5 separate regions of the Homo sapiens genome follow, and all the other regions are linked to region 1. Evidence: fine-mapped expression QTL. A gene starts in region 1. Each other region holds a variant in brackets. All regions are shown on one strand. Distances are between the middles of the regions.

What was found. PIP is the estimated chance that this variant, and not a neighbour inherited with it, causes the effect. A credible set is the group of variants that fine-mapping cannot tell apart.
Region 2: its variant is the best candidate, but not a certain one, in a credible set for the expression of SLC25A29 in whole blood (TOPMed, PIP 0.71).
Region 3: its variant is the best candidate, but not a certain one, in a credible set for the expression of SLC25A29 in whole blood (INTERVAL, PIP 0.56).
Region 4: its variant is the best candidate, but not a certain one, in a credible set for the expression of SLC25A29 in ileum (GTEx, PIP 0.74).
Region 5: its variant is the best candidate, but not a certain one, in a credible set for the expression of SLC25A29 in monocytes (Fairfax 2014, PIP 0.50).

The regions. Positions count from the first base shown.
Region 1 is chr14:100,304,427-100,308,839 of GRCh38, reverse strand. It overlaps SLC25A29 (solute carrier family 25 member 29), which reads left to right and starts at 2,396. Exons shown (of 4, transcript NM_001039355.3): 1 at 2,396-2,641. The coding sequence starts at 2,608. It overlaps MIR345 (microRNA 345), which reads right to left and starts at 981; the gene lies at 884-981. RefSeq lists enhancers at 1,416-1,585, 1,616-1,685, 2,894-3,460, 3,713-3,772, 3,823-3,902 and silencers at 1,776-1,845, 1,936-2,405, 2,466-2,565.
Region 2 is chr14:100,347,808-100,352,220 of GRCh38, reverse strand. All of the region lies in intron 6 of WARS1 (tryptophanyl-tRNA synthetase 1), which reads left to right. Among named protein-coding and RNA genes, the nearest start is that of WARS1, 25 kb to the left of the region's middle. The variant T/C (reference allele first, on the strand shown) is at 1,785.
Region 3 is chr14:100,339,727-100,344,139 of GRCh38, reverse strand. It overlaps WARS1 (tryptophanyl-tRNA synthetase 1), which reads left to right. Exons shown (of 11, transcript NM_004184.4): 8 at 753-865; 9 at 1,569-1,742. Among named protein-coding and RNA genes, the nearest start is that of SLC25A47, 19 kb to the right of the region's middle. The variant A/T (reference allele first, on the strand shown) is at 1,967.
Region 4 is chr14:100,197,362-100,201,774 of GRCh38, reverse strand. No RefSeq gene overlaps it. Among named protein-coding and RNA genes, the nearest start is that of YY1-DT, 39 kb to the left of the region's middle. The variant T/G (reference allele first, on the strand shown) is at 2,540.
Region 5 is chr14:100,363,561-100,367,973 of GRCh38, reverse strand. The region is part of intron 2 of WARS1 (tryptophanyl-tRNA synthetase 1); the gene reads left to right. It also overlaps the pseudogene NDUFB3P4. Among named protein-coding and RNA genes, the nearest start is that of WARS1, 9.6 kb to the left of the region's middle. The variant AG/G (reference allele first, on the strand shown) is at 2,245.

The DNA of each region.
Region 1 (4,413 bases):
ACTGCTGCCCTCACACGGCCTGCCTCAGCTCTCTCAACAAAGGACCCTCCCTGCAAGGAGGTTTTTCTTTTTGAAATAGGGTCTTGCTCTGTCATCCAGGCTGGTGCACAATGGTTCGATCATAGCTCACTGCAGCCTTGACCTCCTGGGCTCAAGCGACCCTCCTGCCTCGGCCTCCTGAGTAGCTAGGACTACAGGCCTGCAGGCATGCGCCACCACATCCTGCCGATTTTTTTTTTTTTTAGAGATGGGGCCTCACTATGTTGCCCAGGCTGGCCTCAAACTCCTGGCTTCAAGCGATCCTCCTGCCTCAGCCTCCCAAAGTGCCTGGATTACAGGCATGAGCCACTGAACCCAGCCTCAAGGAGGTTTCTGAAGCTCAACTATGGAATACCTACTGTTTACCAGGCTACTAGGCCCCTTCCCAAGGACCCCAGGGACTGACAGCTCAGTGCAACCTGCCCCAAGCATAATTTTCAAGGCATGTGCATTCTCTCAATAACAAAGCAAAACAGGTCATGCTTGTCTCCTTATCCGTTTCCATCATTTTCTCACTACTGCCACATGCTGTCAAGGTACTGGATTTCCCTCCCAAACCTCCTCAACCAGGAATGGATGTGCAGGGATTTGTGCTTTACCTCATGAGCCCTCCAGCATCCCAAGGACATCCTGTTCCTAAGGTAAGTGACTACATGTAGGTAGTCCAGTGTAATCACTGTGTCTGCAGGAGGCCTCCAGCCACCTGAGTAGCCCCACAGCCAGCTCCTGCCCTTTTGGGTCTGGGCTTCTCTTGGGGCCCCCATACCACTGCTTTTCTGGCCCATGGGCCACTCTCCCCCATCCGCACACCTGCCTCCCTGAGGCAACCAAGTGGGTCAGAGAGGCTGTCGATATTCAAACCCAGGCCTCCAGACCCCTCGTTCAGGGCCCACCAGCCATCACGAGCCCTGGACTAGGAGTCAGCAGACCTAGGGTTTGGGTCTCTGCTTAACATTCTACTTAGACTCTAAAAGGAAACTAACATGAGCACTGGGGACCCCTGCCCCTAGCACCAGGCTGCACTACTGACAACACCTACCTGTGTGTCCTAGTACCAAATACACAGAACCTTTCGACCTGCACCTCCAGGAGGTAGGTACCCACTGGAATTTGGATAAAAGAACCATGTGACCCTAAACCTGGAAACGTGGCACACGGTGTGGCCTTGCCTGCCTGCAGGCCCTAAAGAAGGAAGCTGGGCCCGGCCTAAGGCTGATCTGACTCCTACAGCGAAGAGAAAGCGCCTGGCCCGTCCCTGCTCCCAGGCTCCAACCTGACAGTCTGGACCTCCAGAGGCGCTGGGGAAGGGCTGGTGGGAAGTCACCGAATGGGACGCTCCACAGGGACCAGGGCAGTCCCTTGCCACTGCGAATGTCAGGGACTCCTGGGGGGCCGAGTCAGACTCGGCTCTCATTCATCCCCGCAGCCCATGGATACCCTGGTGACCCAGAGCCAAGCACCCTCCGACTTCAGCGCCTGAGCGCGGCCCCTACCGAGCCCCTCCGGTCTCGCCCCGTCCGGCCGCCGCTGACGGAGGCGCTGCGATCTGGCCCGACTCCACTCTGCAGCCCAGTCCAGGAACCTCCCTCTCTCCACAACCTTCCGCGGCTCCCGCGACCCGCAGTCCTCGGGAAGGAGCTGTGGCCCGAAGGCCTGCTGCGCCCTTTGCCCATGGCCCCTTTCCCTTTTAAGGTTCCCTGCTCTCCGCCCAAATCCCAGCCTCAGGCTCCGCAGGAAGCGCCCGTGCGCGTCCGACCCCCAGAACCCGGCGGGTTCGGCCAGGAGTCCGGAAGCCCCGGAGGCCACCGCCGCCGCGGGCGCGCAGGCGGGACGGGCAGAGGCTCCCCACGGGCGATTCCCGCTCGCGGAGTTTCGCAACTAGCGGCGTCCCAGTCTGCGGGCCTCGGAACGTCCCGGCGCTCCACGGCCGTTTTCGCGGCAGGGTCCGCACGGCACAGACTAGGGCGCTGAGGTTCTGCGGCGGCGCCGGACTCCGAACCCAGGGTCCGGTTCCCGACCCGGTCCAGACCAGAGCCACCCCGCGTACTCCGGGTGGGGGAGTCCTCGGCTCAACCCCGCCACCCCGCGCGTCCCCTCCCGCCGGACCTGCGCACCCAGCGCGCTCTTTGTCTGAGGCGTCCCCGCGCCCCGCCCGCGCGCCCACCACGTCCCCCGCGCCCCGCCTCCCGCGCACGCCCGGCCAATGAGGCGCGGCGGCGAAGCGCAGTGCCCGGGGTGTTGTCCGCGCCGTGCCCGCCCATTGGCCTCACTCGGCGCCCCCACCCGGGCCCTGCCGGCAGGCACGAGGGGCGGGGCGCGCGGCCCGAGGTGAGGGACCGCGGGCCGGAGGGGATCCAGCGAGTCAGCTGCCGCCGAGGGACCAGCGCGGGTCTAGCTGCTGCCGCCATCCCCACCATCCCTGACCGCGCCTGCCCGGGCTCCGCGCCAGGAGGAGCGGCCAGGCCCAGCCCCGGCACCGCGCGCTCGGGGACCCCGACGGCGCCCAGCCCGGCGAGGGGCCTCAGGGGGAGGACGAGGAGGAAAGGCGGCCTCGCCGGGGACCCGGCCATGGCGCTGGACTTCTTGGCTGGATGCGCGGGGGGTAAGGAGGCGGCGGGCCGGGCCGGGCCGGGGCGAGGCGTCCGGGGAGGGAGGTCGGCCCACCAGCACGCCCTGGCCTCGCGGCTTCCCGCTGGCGGGGGTCGCCGCGTCTGTGAATGGGGACCACAGTTCTCTTGCCTCGGGCGGGTCTCGTGGGCGTAAATTGACTTCAGGCCCGGGCTGTCCGCGAGGGCAGGTGTCTTTATTCTCTCTGGGCACGCTCGGACGGGAGGTCTGGGGCGCCGGGGCAGCACCGTGGCTGAGCGGAGGCCAGGACTGCCGGGAGGATGCCCCACTGCCCCCCGCGCCGAGGTCCCGGGCTCATCTCCTTCCCCTCCCCCATCCCCATCCGTTGCGCACTGGGAGCAGGGTCCCCTCCCCCGGCCGTATATTTCGGGACTGACTCCACCCCGTCCCGCGCAGCCATCCAGCGGGGTTGGGGCTACGGAGCCGACCCCCTACTCGGCTGGCCTTGGAGGGCACTGAACCACTCTGGCGCCGAGTCACGCCTTGGAACGCCGCCCCTTCCTACGCGGTTTTGTGAGCTGTTGGGGGCGGAAGGGGGGTGGTGGGTGGGTCGGGCGAGCCGGTGTGGGGCACCTTCTCCGAGGCGCGGTCGCGGCTCTGGGGTTCCTCCCATGCAGTTGTCCCCGGGAGGGCCCGGGCGGGCGTGCAGTCCAGGCTCTCCCATGCCCCGACCGTGGGCGTCGGGCACGGCACTTCCCTGTTGGGCCTCTGGCTTCTCTGCTTTTACCTTGAGGGTTAATTTATTCACCAGGATTTAGATGTCGGGGGCGGGGGAGGGTGGTTGGCGGCGGGAGTTGCTGAGAGGGCCGGCCGCTTATCCCTGTTTGGTCCCACTTTTCTCCCAGCACCTGCCCTTGTTCACCGCCTCTTCATCTACTTGGATTTGGCTCGAATAAACCCTCAGCTCCCGGCCAGCGCTGAGAGCCCTGGCGGAAGAGTGGGTAGCGGTGGCCTTAAGTATTAAATCTGTGGCGTCGGAGCCTGCTTCTTGGGGGAGAGACTCGTTGAAAAGGGAGTGTGTTGGGGAGGTGTTGTGCGCTGAGGGGAGTTAGAACTTCCCGGTCGGTTACCCAGTGGGAAGCTGCGGGGCACAAAGCCCAGAATTTGCTGCTAATCGCTGGGTGCCCTGGAGACAGAGGGGGCGTGTCCTCTGCGGATTCCATTCTCACCTTCCCCTCCCGCTTCTGATCTCGCTGTTTGCTCCACCCTTGCTCCCCACCCACTATCAGCTCCAGCGGGTGGGGGTGAAGGGCTGTCCCCAGGCCAACACCTCCTTCCAGGCTTTGGGGAGTGGGGATTCTTTCCCCGGATGGGCAGAGTTCCTTCTGCAGTGGCGCTACCGTCCGTGCTGCCCTCCTGGAAACACCGGGGTTTGGGGCAGGAACACTTCACCTGAAAGCAGGCCTGCTTGGCGCCTCCCGGCACATCTGTGGTCTCCTCTGCACGTCGCTCGCGCAGCCTCCTTGCCTGGAATGTCCTTCGCTGCCCATCCTCATAGGCCCACCTGGGAGAGATCATATCCATGCCCCCTGCCCCAGGTTTGTGGGTCAAGGACTGGCACTGTCTGGTGCTGTAGCACTGGGGCACAGGCCACCCCCCTGCCCCCAGGCCCTGCTTTTCGTGCAACCCCCAGGCACATAATGGCCACCCAGCTAAGGCTCTACAAGCGTAAGCCTGAGCCTCCCAGGTGGACAAGGACAGAAGTCACCTGGGGGCTCACTCCTGGTCTCATCGGAGAAACCTAGG
Region 2 (4,413 bases), 43 kb before region 1:
AGAATCGCTTGAACCTGGGAGGCGGAGGTTGCAGTGAGCCGAGATCATGCCACTGCATTCCAGCCTGGGCAACAGAGTGAGACTCTGTCTCAAAAAAAAAAAAAAAAAAAAAGAAAGAAACTGAGTAGTGGTTTTATATCCATTGAGAGCAATGTATACCCTGATAGGAAATCTCGCCCTTCTATCAGCCAGTAAAACTGTTAGCTTTTTCTTTTTCTTTTTTTTTTTGAGACGGAGTCTCGCTCTGTCACCCAGGCTGGAGTGCAGTGGCACAATCTCGGCTCACTGCAAGCTCCGCCTCTCAGGTTCACACCATTCTCTTGCCTCAGCCTCCCAAGTAGCTGGGACTACAGGTGCCCGCCACCATGTCCGGCTAATTTTTTGTATTTTTAGTAGAGACGGGGTTTCACTGTGTTAGCCAGGATGGTCTCGATCTTCTGACCTCATGATCTGCCTGCCTCGGCCTCCCAAAGCACTGGGATTACAGGCATGAGCCACCACGCCCAGCACCTATTAGATCTTTTAAAATTACTTCTCTTGGTTCAGCCATGTGAGCATGGAGGCCCTGTGGCATCCTTGAAGGAAGGAAAATAGACAGGGATCCAGATCCTGGCACCTGGGTTTAGTGGCTGTGTGTCATAGCAGCCGTGTCCATGAAATGGGATCAAACAAGAACATAGATGTCATCATTAGCATAATTTTCTTTTTTTTTTTTTTTTTTGAGACAGAGTCTCACTCATGGGTTTTGCCATGTTGGCCAGGCTGGTCTTGAACTCCTGACCTCAAGTGATCCTCCCCGCCTCAGCCTCCCAAAGTGCTGCGATTACAGGTGTGAGCCACCATGCCCAGCCGTGTTAGTATAATTTTCATGGCACTTTATTTCCTTATTCTCACCCCATTCCATACAATGATTCAACTGATTGAACCTCTGCAGAGACAACTGTGGGTTCTGCTTCTCCTTTTCCAGTCAGGCAGTGCTGCTGGCATTGCCCAGTAGCTGCTATCCTCTTCCCACACCACCACTGCCCCCACCAGCCAGTGATCTCCCTAAAACTCAGAGCTAATCTCATCTTCCACTTGCGGGTCTTTCCCAGCTCTCCTCCTTAGATGACATTGAGAATTCTCACCTTTCACTTGGCACACGAGCCCTTTCGTGATTGGCCCTGTGTTCCTCTCCAGCGTCACTGCTACCTCCAGCTCAGTGGAACAGCTTGCAGTTCCACATCCTTCTCCTTTGTACATGCTCTGTGCTGCCCAGAATTCCCACCCACTCTCCTGACCCTGCCACCCCCAGCTTAGCTAATTCCTACACTTTCTTCCAAAGGCATGATCAAGCATCACCTTTTCCTAGGAGCTTTCCCTCCCCACAGCCAAATTTAGATGCCCCTCTCTGGTCCTCCATCAGGCTGGGCCTTACCTCTGCCACATCTGGTACAGTGTGGCCCTCTCCCCACTAGCTGAGTAAGACACATAGTTCCTGAATTTGTGCTCTCTGTGGCCCATCCCCTCCTGGGCCCCACAGACACAGCAGAAGCAAAGCTGAGCCGCTTCGTTGATGGATATAAATGCTGGTGGTGAGACAAGAGCAAGTGCCTATAATAGTCCATGAAGCTGATTCAGCCAATAGATGCACGATGGGGTAGATGAACTTTTGAACAGTCCATGTGAAAAGACCACCACCTGAGCAACCCCACTTTCAGCGCTCTCTGAACGTGGAGTGAGGCCGCCATTCCTCGTGCTGTCTCTTTGGCAACTGCGGTTGCAGCTCCTGACCAGCCTCCACC[T/C]TCGCTAAATAAGAACTTCCTTTTTTTTTTTTTTTTTCTTTTTTTGAGATGGAGTCTTGCTCTGTCGCCCAAACTGGAGAGCAGTGGCATGATCTCGGCTTACTGCAATATCTGCCTCCTGGGTTCAAGCAATTCTCATGCCTCAGCCTCCTGAGTAGCTGGGATTACAGGCGCCCGCCACCACACCCAGCTAATTTTTGTATTTTTAGTAGAAACGGAGTTTCACCATGTTGGCCAGGCTGGTCTCGAACGACCTCAAGTGATCCACCCGCCTCGACCACCCAAAGTGCTGGGATGCGTGAGCCACTGCACCTGGTCGGGAACTTCCTTTTTTCTTACAAACATGGGGTAAAGATGAAACCCAGACAGTATGTCAACCAAAAGGGTCGATGATATCTTTTCTTGAAAGGCATTTTATATTGAACCTAAAGTGAGGAGAGACATTTTAAAGGGTAAATCCTCTATTCAAACATTTTACTTTAAGAGTTTCTTCTAAACATTTGAGCATTTTACTTTTCTTTCTTGAATTTAACTCAAAATCTATATCTTTGGCTTAATAAAGCTCCTTCCTGGTGTTTAGGAGCTGGAAATTCAACAAAGCCAGCCATCGCCCTCTTTGAGTGGGAGGGAGGTGGTGAGGCCTCCATGAGGGAGGAGGCCAGTGCAGTTCCCCCTGCACATTGCACATGGCCCCAGAACGGCCTTCCTGCCCAGGGCCCTGAGGGATGCAAAGGCACTGAGCTGGGAGTCTGAAAACTTGTGTTCCAGACCCAGCTCTGCCCCTGCCTGGTCTTGTTCCCTTGGGCAAGTCCTTAAATCTCTGAGCTTCCATGTTCCTGTGAGGAAGGGAGCTGGGTGCTAGTGGGGGGCAGCATAGCAGAGGTTGCAAGTGCTCTGCTTGACGGCCGTCCGCTGTGTGGCCTGGGCATGGGAGGAGCCTTCCACTGTGTGGCCCGGGCATGGGAGGAGCTCCTCTCTGCCTGCTTTCTTCACTCTGCTCCTTTGTTCTACAAATATTTATTGGACATCTGCTATATGCCAGACTCATGGTGGGGGTACAGCAGGGAGCAAAACCATTATCTCAGCAGCTGTGTAAAGCCTCTCTTCTAATGGGGAGAATCAGCTAACAGGTGATCAATCAGGTGATAATAAGTTCTATGGTGATAATAGGGACAAAGGGCAGGGGTAGAGAAGACTGTGGTCAGGAGATGATAGTGCCTGCACTGCATATAAAGTGCTTCAAGCCACGCCTGGCACCTGGGGAGTGCTCAGTAAATGTTGTAATCTAAAATCTCTTCCCACTTTAAACCCTGTCTGAGAGTGAAAAGCAGGTGCCCTCCCTGGGGTAACTGGTGGTTCAGCCACATGTGATATACAGTTAGGTGTGTTCACTGCAGCCAGTGAGAAGCCTCCATGTGCCGGCACTGGCATGGCTGCTTTGCGTGATGGGTCCGTCCCAGCTGTGCAGGGGGACAGCCGTCCCTTGAGGGGAGGATCACACGTGCTCACGGTGCAGCACCTGCATTCACCCTGCAGCCAGCACAGTGGCAGCAGCTTGCAGCAAGTAATGACCAGTCTTCTAAGAAAGGGCAGCGTGCTCTAACTCAGAAATACCAGTCAGACGCCGTGAAGCTACAGTCCTGCCACAGTTTGGGGGTACTGGAGACTTTCCCTCCTTGTAGGGGTTAGGGTGTCCCAGGTGCCTCAATCCCAAGGGCGCATGGAGTCTTTGCTGCAGCCCATCTCCCCAGGTGACAGACAGCTGCTGTCCTTACTGGCTGTGAGTCCTGCTGCGGTGCCCAGGAGGGACCCTCCCTGCCTGCGGTGTTCTTGGCTTGCTTGGCAGGAGGACAAAGGCCGCATCTTTCCAGGCAGTGCTGCTGTTGGCTGTGCTCTTGCTCTCTGTTGTTTCCATTGTGCTGAGTGGGTGACACAGATGCTGGGTTCTCCTGGCATGCCCCTTCACAGTACTGCGCCCGCCCTCTCCAGTGCCCCCCAGGGCCTGAAACTCAGCCGGCTGCTAGGCGAAAGACACAGTCCATCCCTCACGTGCTGCCTCTGCTCAACCTGGACAGGCCTTGGCACTGACCTTGACCGTTACAGGCCTCCCAGCATTGTGCTTCGCCCAGCACAAACGGCCAGTGTTCCTGCACTCCTGACACCCCACCCCACCTGCACAAAGACATTCAGTAGTTCTCCACCCTGCCCCAAAAGTCTAAACTCTTCTAAAGGATAAGATGTGGTGAGAAAAGCATAGGCTTTGGGGCCAGGTGAATCTGTGTTGGGATCCCAGCCCCTGTACTCACTGGGCCTGTGACTATGACCCTGAACTTCTTTGAGCCTAGTCTAACTGTAAGGTGGAGGCAATGCTACTACTTTGAAGGGGATTTTAGGAGTATTGACACATACGCAGCATCTAGCACAGCTCCTGCCACATGGTGCAAACACTTAAAAGACACCAGCCTTCCCCCTTTTCCCTCGTAGTGTCTAACACATGGTAGGGCCTAGAGAAAAAGCTACTGAATATAGTAATACAAAGATGCAATATAAGAAGCCACTTGGCTGGGCGCGGTGGCTCACACCTGTAATCCCAGCACTTTGGGAGGCCAAGGCAGGTGGATCACCTGAG
Region 3 (4,413 bases), 35 kb before region 1:
CTTTGGCTCCGCATCAGAGGGAGACCGTGGAAAGAGAGGGAGAGGGAGACCGTGGGGAGAGGGAAGAGGGAAGAGGGAAGCCATCATAACTTCTGATAATTAAAGGTGGAAGGTGGCTAGAGAATGGTTAAATGATATGATACATTGACAGGATAGAATATACTTAGTAACAACATGGATAGTCATTACAATGAAAAAGGCAAGGAAGGCCGGGCGCCGTGGCTCACGCCTGTAATCCCAGCACTTTGGGAGGCCGAGGTGGGCAGATCACGAGGTCAAGAGATTGAGACCATGCTGGCCAACATGATGAAACCTCATCTCTACTAAAAATACAAAAATCAGCTGGGTGTGGTACGCACCTGTAGTCCCAGCTACTCGGGAGCCTGAGGCAGGAGAATCACTTGAACCCCAGGAGGCAGAGGTAGCGGTGAGCTGAGATCGAGCCACCACACTCCAGCCTGGCAACAAAGCGAGACTCCTTCTGAGAAAAAAAAAAGGAAAAGAAAAAGCCAAGGAAAGACCAAATATAGTGTAATCACAACAAAAATGCATAGAGTAAAATATATAAAGAAAATGGATGAAATCAGACACATTGCAACTGTACAGCTTGTTCTTTCTACTTTTCTGTATTTTTTAGATTTATTTTAATGATTGTTTTATAATGGGAGAAAACCTGTTTTTGTTCATTCCTTTATTAACTAAGCAGAACAGGAACTCATCTCACGTGTAAAAATACTTTTTCTCATTTTCAGGGAAGATCAGTTTTCCTGCCATCCAGGCTGCTCCCTCCTTCAGCAACTCATTCCCACAGATCTTCCGAGACAGGACGGATATCCAGTGCCTTATCCCATGTGCCATTGACCAGGTCAGCAGGCAGAAAAGCAAGGCTCTCTAAGTCTGGGGCATTGACAGCAGGTTCCTCTTACTCTTCAGCGGGGAGAGGTATTGAAAGATATGATGGGCAGCCAGGCAGGGTGGCTCACGCCTGTAATACCAGCACTCTGGGAGGCCAAGGCAGGCGGATCACTTGAGGCCAGGAGTTCAAGACCAGCCTGGCCAACATGGCGAAACCCCGTCTCTACTAAAAATACAAAATTTAGCCACATGTGGTGGCAGGCGCCTGTAATCCCAGCTACTCGCCTCGCTTGAACCCCAGAGGCAGAGGTTGCAGCGAGAGCGCATCACTGCACTCTAGCCTGGGCGACAGAGCAAGGCTCTGTCTCAAAAAAAAGGAAAGAAAGTTGGGGAGTGGGGCAAGGGGAGGGAGAGCATTAGGACAAATACCTAATGCATGCGGGGCTTAAAACCTAGATGACGGGTTGATGGGTGCAGCAAACCACCATGGCACATGTATACCTATGTAACAAACCTGCGTGTTCTGTACATGTATCCCAGAACTGGAAGTAAAATTTAAAAAAAAAAAAGGAAAAGATGAAGGGGAGGAGGGAGTGAATTTCTTTGGTTGGAAGCATGAGAGCCTTCTGGGAAGATGCTCACAGGGACTGCTCATGGCTGAAAGCTGGCATGTTTTCTGGCCGCCCTCATCAGGGTCCTTACTCTCCCCACAGGATCCTTACTTTAGAATGACAAGGGACGTCGCCCCCAGGATCGGCTATCCTAAACCAGCCCTGCTGCACTCCACCTTCTTCCCAGCCCTGCAGGGCGCCCAGACCAAAATGAGTGCCAGCGACCCCAACTCCTCCATCTTCCTCACCGACACGGCCAAGCAGATCAAAACCAAGGTGAGCAGTGGCCCAGGCAGAGGGCAGCCAGCGGGATCAGAAACATGCCCTGGGGGGCACACGCACACACACACCACTGCGCAGTGCTTTGGGCCTCAGCCACCCAGCCACCGTAGCAATGCTGAACTCCAGGATTGCCAACTTTGCTCCCTGCAGAACTCAAGGCAGCCTGTCCTTCCCACATGAATCAGGTGAATTTGTTTTGTGTCCTTTCATTTAGGTAA[A/T]ATTTTGAATTTTTTTTCTTTTTTTCCTTTTCTGCTTTTCTTATCAGCACTGTTCTGCAGGCAAAGTCATGGCAATTTCCTTAAAGTTATAATTAGTGTGGATGTTATTAAATAATGGAAAAGATTTGTGTATATTTCTCATCATCAGCTGTGTTCCAGCGGCTGGACCCGGTGCCTTATTTATGTTTTCTCATGTTTCATTCTCACTGGGAGGTGGTGGTGCTATTCCCTTTAAAGATGAGATGATGAGGCTTAGAGAAGCCCAGCCACTTGACCAAGTTTCCACCACCAGGAATCAGCAGCACTGCTCTCCTGGCCCTGAGCAGCCATTACCAAGCAGGGGTTATGAGCTGGTCTTCTCCCAGAGAGCGTTCTCACTGAGAGACATAGAACGGAGAAACGTCCATCCACGGGACAGTCCTGCTGGCCCCAGGAGGGATGCATGCAGCAGGCATTCAGCAAACATTTGACAAATCACTAGAGAAACTAAAAGGAGAAGTTAGTTTGAGCTTCCTTATTTTGCATGGCCCCAGTTCTGTTGCCTGGTTCCTCAACAGCCAGTGTATATATAATTGCCTCACTGTTACACAAAGCAGTTGACATTTTCTTTGGAATCAAGTGTGTGTTTGCAGGCTAGAAGATTGCAGTGGGAATGCTGGGAACTGTATTTGAGGCATGTCACATGCCCTCTGAGTCACTGCCCCTGACCGTTCTGGAAAGTCCCAAGCAGGTTCTGGTTGACAATGGGGAAGCCTTTCATATCAAAACTTCCTAAGACATGCCCTCCACCAACTCTCCCCACTCAGTTGGAAGCTGGTATAATTGAAGACTTTTCTTTCCCTTTCACTTCTGGCCAAAACTTCCGGAGCACAGGGTGCAGAGTGGGGAGGGAAGCGCCATTGGAAAAGTCCACTGTTTTATTTTGCTTCTGAGAAGTTGTTTGGAAAAAGTTGTTTATGGCCAGGTGCGATAGCTCACACCTATAATTCCAGCACTTTGAGAGGCCGAGGCAGGTGGATCACCTGAGGTCAGGAGTTCGAGACCAGCGTGGCCAACATGGTGAAACTCCTGTCTCTACTAAAAATACAAAAATTAACCAGGCTTGGTGGCAGGCACCTATAATCCCAGCTACTCGGGAGGCTGAGGCAGGAGAATTGTTTGACCCTGGAAGACAGGGGTTGCAGTGAGCCGAGATCGCACCACTGTTCTCCAGCCTGGGCAACAGAGTGAGACTCCAGCTCAAAAAAAAAAAAAAAGAAAAGAAAAAAGAAAAACTTGTTTATGGATCTGGGACATTTATCATTCACTTAGGGACCAGTAGAGCCCTCGAGGTGAGCAGTTAGCATGAGGTCAGGAAAAACAGAGGCCTACAGACGGTCACTGGGCCTGCAGGCTTCTTGTGGGGCAGAACAGGGCCCGCCCAGGCCCTCACTCTAAATCCCCGTGCCCGACTTCAGCTCCAAAATCAGAATCTCCACACTAGAAAAGAGAGGGCACATCTGCTCCAGCCTCCTAAAAATAACAGGTTCAGGCAGGGCAGTGGCACGTGCCTGTAGTCCCAGCTACTCAGGAGGATGGCTTGAGCCCAGGGATTCAAGGCTGCAGTGAGCTACTATTGTGCCTGTGAATAGCCACTGCACCCCAGCTGGGGTGGCACAGTGAGGCCCCATCTCTCAAATTAAAAAAATCAAAATAGTAGCACAGTGCTGACGACTCAGGTGGCTTTGCTGAGTGAGTACCTGCCACCTGCACACAGTAAGCCTGTGTTATCTAACTTTATTCCAACTACCACCCTAGCTGGCTGTGTCCATTCGGCATCATTTCCTGTCACACAGAGTCACACTGGTCACCCACTTCCATCATCTTAGTTGCTGGCAGCAGTGCTCCATACCCACCCCCAAGTCAGCCCTCCATCTGTTTTCCTGTAAGTCAGGCCTGGTAGGCTGGTTCCTGCATCACTGAGGACTGATCACGTCAAGGAGGCAGAACTGAGCCCCTCAGTTCTCGAGCTCCACCCAGAAGCCTGGTGTCCCAGGAGCCAGCCTGGTCCTGCCAATCCCTGTCACATATGGCAGGTTCCTGACACTCTGGGCCTGATTTCCTTCACCTGTAAGATAGAGACATCACTACAGAGGTCATTGGGTTGTTGGGGATAAAATGCATGTCATAACCCTAACAGCCTCCACGGATGGCACATCTGCTGTGTGCCTACCGTGGGAAAAGCCTGGGGAGGGGGAGTGTGCAGGTGGTGGTGACGCCAGCACATCTTGAAAAACATGCAGCAGACACCAGTTTCCTTGTTCTCCTCTCAGATAAAGTTCTGGGAACTGGCCTTTCAATATCCTCTTCAAACTGCCCCTGGAAGCCAGGACCTGTGTTCTCAGACTTTCTTCCTGACACTGAAGCTTCTTCCCCAAGGCCCAGCAGGGAGGGCTATGGCCACCACA
Region 4 (4,413 bases), 110 kb after region 1:
ACTGGGATTACAGGTGTGTGGCACCATGCTTGGCCCTATTTTTAGATTTTTCTTTTTTCTTTTTTTGTTGGTAGAGACAGGTTTTCACTATGTTGCCCAGACTAACAATATATGTTTTTAAAAAGTTATCTTTGCATTCTGAGTAGGAATTAGTAAAAATAATAATAATAATTAATTAATTAATTAAAAAAGTAAAGACTTGAACTTCCTATCTCCCTCTCCTCTCCCTGTGAAGAAAAAAATAATAAGTTTTTTTTGGTAAAACTTACCTTTTTTTTTTTTGAGACAGAGTCTCACTCTTTCCCCCAGGCTTGAGTGCAATGGTGCAATCTCCGCTCACTGCAACCTCCACCTCCCGGGTAGAGGGAATTCTCTTGCCTCAGCCTCCCAGACAGCTGGAATTATGGGTGCACACCACCACGCCTGGCTGTTTTTGTTTTGTTTGTGTATATATATATATTTTTTTGTATATAACTTTTGAGATAGAGTCTTGCTCTGTTGCCCAGGCTGGAGTGCAGTGGTGCAGTCTCCGCTCACTGTAACATCTGTCTCCCGGGTTTAAGCGAGTCTCCTGCCACAGCCTCCCGAGTAGCTGGGATTACAGGTGTGGGTCACCACACCCGGCTAATTTTTGTATTTTTAGTAGAGATGGGGTTTCACCATGTTGGCCAGGCTGGTCTTGAACTCCTGGCCTCAAGTGATCCTCCCACCTCGGCCTCCTAAAGTGCTGGGATTATAGGCGTGAGCCACTGCACCTGGCCAGTAAAATTTATCTTTAAGAACAAGTTAAAAACAATGTGTAACTACAATGGAATATTATTTGACTAAAAAGAGAAGTGTGGATACATGCTGCAATATAAATCAAACTTGAAAACATTATGCTGGCTGGGCGCGCGGTGGCTCACGCCTGTCATCTCAGCACTTTGGGAGGCCAAGGCGGGTGGATCACGAGGTCAAGAGATGGAGACCATCCTGGCCAACATGGTGAAACCCCATCTCTACTAAAAATACAAAAAATTAGCCGGGCATGGTGGCAGGCGCCTGTAGTCCCAGCTACTCGGGAGGCTGAGGTAGGAGAATCACTTGAACCCGGGAGGCGGAGGTTGCAGTGAGCTGAGATTGTGCCACTGCACTCCAGCCTGGCGATGAAGGGAGACCATCTCAAAAGAAAGAAAGAAAGAAAACATTATGCTAAGTAAAAAGCCAGACACAAAAGGCTGTGTTATCCCATTTATGCAAAATGCTCAGAATCAACAAATCCATAGAGGCAGAAAGCAGATTAGTGCTTCCCAGGGGATGGGGAGTGGGGTTAGATAACAGGATGTGACTGCTAATAGGTACCAGGTTTCTTGTTGGGGAGTTTAAAATGTTCTAAAATGAGAAAATGGTCATGGCTGCACAACTCTGAATATACTAAATCCTTGAGTTGCACATTTTAAAAGGGTGACTTTTAGGCTATGAGAATTATATCTCAATACATGTGTTATTCAAAAGTGTATAGAGGCCAGGCGAGGTGGCTCACGCCTGTAATCCCCACACTTTGGGAGGCCGAGGCGGGTGGATCACTTGAGGTCAGGAGTTCAAGATCAGCCTGGCCAACATGGTGAAACCCTGTCTCTACTAAAAAAATACAAAAATTAGGCTGAGCGTGGTGGCTCATGCCTGTAATCTCAGCACTTTGGGAAGCTGAGGCAGGTGTCTCTACTAGAAATACAAAAATTAGCCGGTCGTGGTGGCATGCGCCTGTAGTCCCAGCTATTCAAGGAGGCTGAGGCAGAAGAATTGCTTGAACCCAGGAGGCGGAGGTTGCAGTGAGCCGAGATAGCACCACTGCACTCCAGCCTGGGCAACAGAGCAAGGCTCCATCTCAAAAAAAAAAAAAAAGTGTGTAGGGCTGTTTGCCTGAGAATGGGAAACCCACGCAGGGCCCAGTGAAGCACACTTCAATGACACAGGTGCAGCAGAGGGACACCTCCCAGCATCAGTGTCCTCAATGGGTAGCCCCCGGGGCCAGCAGCATCACTGGGGACCTGCTGGGAATGCAAGCCCTCAGGCCCCACCCCAGAGCTGCTGAGTCAGAGACTCTGGGAGGGGGCCCAGCCATCCCTTTGTCAGGCCCTCCTGGGGATGCCCACTCTCCTCCAAGGATCACCGCCCTAGACCCAACCTGGGCAGCAGAGGGAAGCCAACAGCATGAAAAGGGAAACTCTCCACCATGCCACAAAACCCAGGCCTCTACGCCCAGCTGAAAAGCCATCTCCTGCAAGAATTTCTCTGAAATTCTTCATCGCTTCATCACTGTGGCTTCAGTGTGGTTCCAGATCCGAGTCCATATAGCACATGTGCAGGCAAGTCTCATCAGGGCTTGGGATCTCTAACCCAGCTCTTTATACACTTGGGCCTGTGACTCCCTACAGTCGAGGGCCCTGATGGACAGAGCGTGACAGCAATGAAGACTCCAGTGTTCAGAATGATTCTGAAGTACAGTGAAGAGGAGAGGAAACAAGAGGACAGAGGACAGTTCCTTGGTTCTATTCTC[T/G]CTCTCTCTTTTTTTTTTTTTTTTTTTTTTGAAACAGTCTCAGTCACTCTGTTGCCCAGGCTGGAACACAGTGACATGATCATGGCTCACTGCAGCCTCGACCTCCCTGACTCAAGTGATCCTGCCACCTCAGCCTCCTTAGTAGCTGGGACTACAGGTTGTGCCACGACACTCAGCTAATTTTTTATTTTTTGTAGAGACAGGGTCTCACTTTGTTGCCCAGGCTGGTCTCGGACTCCTGAGCTCAAGAAATCCTCCTTCCCAGCCTCTCGAAATGCTGGGAGTGACTACAGACATGAGCAACTGTGCCAGGGCATTTTTATGTTTAATTGAGAAAATACCACTTCCAATACCACTCTTTAATTCTGGACAGTTTTTGTAAACCCCAAAGAGAAATTCGGACTGTTAGTAGTCACTCCTATGCCCCCTTCCATCCAAACCCTGGCAACCACCATCTACTTTATGTTTCTTTCTTTTTTTTTTTTTTTTTTTTGAGACAGAGTTTCACTCTTGTTGCCCAGGCTTGAGTGCAGTGGCACAATCTCGGCTCCCTGCAACCTCTGCCTCCAGGGTTCAAGCGATCCTCCTGCCTCAGCCTCCCAAGTAGCTGGGATTACAGGCATGTGCCACCACGCCCAGCTAATTTTTGTATTTTTAGTAGAGACGGGGTTTCACCATGTTGGCCACGCTGGTCTCCAACTCCTGACCTCAGGTGATCTGCCCACCTCAGCCTCCCAAAGTGCTGGGATTACAGCTGTGAGCCACCACGCCCGGCCTTCTTTCTGTTTCTATGGATATGCCTCATCTGGACATTTCATATATGTGGAATCCTACAATAGGTGGCCTTTTGTAACTGGCTTCTTCAATTTACCATAATAAATTTGTTTTGTTTTTCTAAAAATGTATGTACAAAATCTCCACACCTCTCTTGTCAGTTTCCATATGCTCCTGCAATGTGGTTCCTGCGTAGAGCTGGGCAGTGAGATTATAGGTTTGTGTGTATTTTCCACAAATATGTGCTATATTTGTAATTTTTTCTCTTTTTTCTTTTTTTTTTTTGTGAGACACAGTCTTGCTGTGTTGCCAGACTGGAGTGCAGTGGCACGATCTCGGCTCACTGCAACCTCCACCTCCTGGGTTCAAGCATGTAATCAGTTTTTTAAAGTTTACTTTAAGAAACCCCAAAAACCTTGATTCTCCTGTTGCTGCTGTAACCAGTAAAAAGAAAAAAACAAACTGGCTGGGCACGGTGGCTCACGCCTGTAATCCCAGCACTTTGGGAGGCCAAGGCGGGCAGATCTCTTGAGGCCAGAAGTTTGAGACCAGCCTGGTCAACATGGTGAAACCCCATCTCTACTAAAAATTCAAAAATTAGCTGGGTGTGGTGGCACACACCTGTAATCCCAGCTACCCTGGGGGCTGAGGCAGAAGAATCACTTGAACCTCGGAGGTGGAGTCTTCAGTGAGCTGAGATCACGCCACTGCACTCCACCCTGGGTAACAGAGCGAGACTCCATCTCAAAAACAAACAAGAAAACAAACAAAAAAAGCCTCGATTCTTGTGTATATTATGTTATAATTTACATACAAAGAGGTAGGAGAATACAAACAGATACATTTTTACTTAATAGAGAAAGAAACAGTTTCTAATCCCAGCATTTTGGGAGCCCAAAAGTTTGAGATTGGCCTGGGAAACGTAGTGAGATTCCATCTCTACAAAACACTTTTTAAAAAGAGAAAGAAATAGCAGAAGGGAAAACCGGGATATAAATGAAGTGGCTGCCCAGCGGCCTGTGACTTATGACTGCTGTCTTGGAAGTGGGTCCTGGGGGGTCCATCAGCCTCTTTTTTTTTTTGAGACAGGGTCTCGCTCT
Region 5 (4,413 bases), 59 kb before region 1:
CATCTTTATTCCTCTTTGCTTTACTCTTTGGGCAGAGCAAATCTTCCAATTGTTTCTGAAAAAAATATTGCAAAGGAAATATTTCTAGGGGGATCTTGCCCATCTGAAAGCGTATTTATTTTACCTAAAACATGATTGATAGCCAGGCTGGGTGTAGGGTTCTAGCATGGAAGTGATTTCCCCTGGAAATGCTGAAGCCACTGCTCTATTGGCACCTAGCTTCTGGGCTTGCTGCAGAGAAGTCAGTTGCCATTCCTTTGTTTTTTCTTTTTGGAAGTTAGCAGGATCTTCTTTGTTCCCGTGTTCTGAAATTTCATGGGATGCAGGTTCAGTATGCCTTTCTTTTTTTTTTTTTTTTTTTTTTTGCCACCCCACCCCCGCCCCCCGAGATGGAATCTCACTCTTTCACCCAGGCTGGAGTGTGGTGGCACAATCTCGACTCACCGCAACCTCCGCCTCCTGGGTTCAAGCAGTTCTCCTGTCTTAGCCTCCCAAGTAGCTGGGATTACAGGCATCCGCCACCATACCAGGCTAATTTTTGTATTTTTAGTAGAGACGGGGTTTCACTATATTAGCCAGGCTGATCTCAAACTCCTGACCTCATGATCTGCCCACCTCGGCCTCCGAAAGTGCTGGGATTACAGGCGTGAGCCACCACACTCAGCCTGCCTTTTAGACTAGAAACTCATGGCCGTTAATTCTCAGAAATCATGATTTCTTTGATCTCTTCTGTTTTCTCTCTTCACAGACTTTTTTTTTTAATTCAGAGACTGTTTCTCTGATTTTCTAACCCTCCTATTGTTTTCCATTTCTGCTATCATTTTTAACTTCCAGGAGCATGTATGCTCCCTGAAGTTTCCTCACAGCACTCTGCCCTGACTCATAGGTACAGTACCACCCTTTTCTCTCTGAGATTTTTTTTTTTAATCTTATTTTACTGTATTAAATCTTACTAATATTCTGTAAGGGACAAACCAGACGAGTAGGCTACAGTGAAGAAATCTTATTTTGGAGAGTTAAGAAACCACTATGATACTTCCAGGTATTATCTTCAGTGATGCTTCTTATCTTTATTCAGGGACTCCAGGTAATATTCAGCTCCTACAGCTACCACAAATGCAGCAAATCCCCATTTGAATCCTTTAAACAATACATCAAAAAAGGAAACACTCTTTGCAAAGCCACCCATGTATCTTCAAGCTTCATTGTGGCCCCACGGATCCCTTAGCCCTTTTTCAGCCAGCTTCTTCTGGATAGTTTCTAATGGTGTCCCTTCTGTCTTCCGTTGTCTGTAATCTAGAAGTTCCATTTTACGATGTCCATGCTCATGTCCATGTCCATGGGCCATGTCTGACAGCAATCTGACCTCTCAGGACACTCAACTCTCTCTCTCTGAGATCTTAATGGTAGTTTTCCATATGTCCTCTACATCCTTTATAACCTCAGTTTCTTCCATCTTAATTTGTTTTCTACCTGCCTTTCATATTAGAGGCAATTCTCAACTGTTTGGTGTTTCTTGGCTATTTGCTGGTGTTTTGGGGGGTGCACTGAAAGCTGCTGGATGCACTCTTCATTGGGGAAGAGCTTATCAACATAGGTTCCACTTCCTGGAGAGTGACCAGGCTGCTCCCCTTTTGTTGGGGAATCTTTCGTGTCAAGGTCTTTAGATCTTTTCTTTAAAGTTAAGTGAGATTCCCCAGAGAAAGCTCCCCCAGTCCACTGTTCAGAGGGGGTGAGTCCCGCTGCCAGAGTTCTACGGCTGAGTGGGAGAGAAGGGCTGGGCTGTGGGATCCTTCCCCGAAGCTCCCTATTCTCTGTGTGCTGCCAGTGCCCCAACTGTGCAGACTGCCCCCAGTCTAGGCACCTGTAACTCTGTCCTCTCTTGACATGAAACCTTGGAATGGAGGGGAAACTGTGACACTCCCTTGGCCGAGGGGAGAGGGATTCTCAATAACTGCTTCTTGAAGAGACTTCAACCAGCGCTCCTGTTTTCATAACCCGCTTTCCTGCCCCCACTCCTGTAAGTGCGCAAGGTCACTAAGGCCCGAACCTTTGGGTGATTCCGTAACAGTGTACACTCGGTCACCTTCCAGTATTTCCATGATGTCTTAGCATTTGTTTTTCTCTCATGCTGTTAGGCACTGATCATTCATCAGCTTTCTGGCTTCTGAAACCTTGTTGCTGTCATCCTCTTCTTGTTTCCTTTGTCCTTGTGGGATTATGCTTTAAAAAAAAAAAAAAAAA[AG/G]AAGATCTCTGCTTTTGTTGTAGTAGATTTCAGAAATATCATCATCAATACGCATCTTTAACTAGAACATAAGCATTTCATTTCCTTCTGGGGTGACTCCACTCCGGCTTCTCCATGACTTCCATCACTTTTTTTTTTTTTTTTTTTTTGAGGCTGAGTCTCACTCTGTCGCCCAGGCTGGAGTGCACTGGCACAGTCTTGGCTCACTACAACCTCTGCCTCCTGAGTTCGAGCGATTCTCCTGCCCTGGCCTCGTAAGTAGCTGGGACTGCAGGCGCCCGCCACCACACCCGGCTAATTTTTGTATTTTTAGTAGAGAGGGGGTCTTGCCATGTTGGCCAGGCTAATCTTGAACTCCTGATCTCAGGTGATCCGCCCGCCTCAGCCTCCCAAAGTACTGGGATGACAGGTGTGAGCCACCACGCCCGGCCCGACTTCCGACACTTTTAACTCCTGTTATCTGTTATCTTTTCAAACACCTTGCTTGTCACCAGATTGTGTCAACCATCTCACATTCCCCAGTAGTTTACTTTGACTATTTGGGACCCTGATTTAAATCATTATTTGTGTGTGTGTGTGTGTGTGTGTGTGTGTGTGTGTGTGTATTTTTTGAGACAGGGTCTCGCTCTTTCCACGTTGGAGTGCAGTGGTGCAATCCTAGCTCAGTGCACCCTCAAACTCCTGGGCTCCCACCTTAGCCTGCCAAGTTGCTGGAATTATAGATGCAAGCCACTGCACCCAGCTCATATTTTAAATGAAATAAATAGTACTGAAAGAAAGTAATGTCAAAAAAAAGTTACTTTTTTACAGAAAGAGATTTACTCACCAGGTAGGCCTCAAACGATTAAACCAAGTTGTTTTAAAACAAAATTATAAAATAAATAAAAGACCCAGTGGGGTTATGTAAGCCCATCATTTTGGGAAGTTGACAGTGGTATTTTTGTCCATTTAATATTAAATTTGAATAACATTTAGTAAATGTTTTTAGTTAGTAATTCTTAGTGACTGCAGTTATGTTCATTATTTTAGTCAACTTAATACATTTTATAATAACTCTTCCAAGTGTATTATTTGACTAATGCAATTGGCTGGCACACGTTGAAGACATCAGAGGTTGCACAATGAGACCAGAGTTAAGTGGTGAAAAATTCAGAAGTACATTTGTATCTGACCCTGAAATGTCTTGGTAGTAGAAGCACTTGATGTTTTGGAAATTTTAAAAATTAACTTTTAGCAAAATAGTGTGAGCCACATTGGGAGTGCCAGTTCTAAGAGAGGGCACCTTGAGCTCTTTCTTCTCCTGCCATTTATCTAGGCCATGGACCTTGAAGGTCTTTTCTGCTCCAGTGTATCTAAAGAATAAGATCCACATCCTTCAGTAGCAGCAGCTCATTAAAGCGGCAAGTTTCCTAGGGGGAAATAAGTCAGCATCTGAGGGCTGTGAGGGGAAATAGTTTGAGCAGGACTAAAGAAGCAATGCTAGGTCTTAGGTATTAAGAAAGAGAGCAGAGCCTTTTTCTTCTTCTCCTTTTTGTTTAAGTAACTTCTAAAATCAAAATATACCATTCATATAGAAAAACATGCTGATCATAAGCACAAGCAGGCACCTCACTGAATTTTCACAAAATGACCACACCTGTGTAACCAGCACCCAAATCAACAGCAAGCAGAGAGCACCTAGAAGCCACCCTCACGCGCCTCAGCCTCTGCCATGACTCCTCCCACCAGGGGTAGCTCTACCTGGGTTTGAACTGTATGTAATACAGTCTTGTGTCTGGCTTTTTTTTCTGAACATCAGCTTTTGGCGAGGCTCCGTGGCTCATGCCTATAATCCCAGCACTTAGGAGGCCAAGGCAGGAGGATCGCTTCAGGCCAAGAGTTTGGGACCAGCCTGGATAATATAGTGAGACCCTGTCTCTACAAAAAATTTAAAAATTAGCCAGACATGGTGGCACACACCTGCAGTCCCAGCTACTCAGGAGACTGAAGTGAGACCCTGTCTAAAAAAAACTGATGTTCTGGGTTTTTTGTGGGGTGGGGATCTCACTTCATCACCCAGGTTGGAGTGCAGTGGTGCAATCTCGGCTCACTGCAACCTCTGCCTCCCTGGCTCAAGCAATCCTCTGACTTCAGCCTCCCGATGAGCTAGGAACACAGGTGTGTGCCAC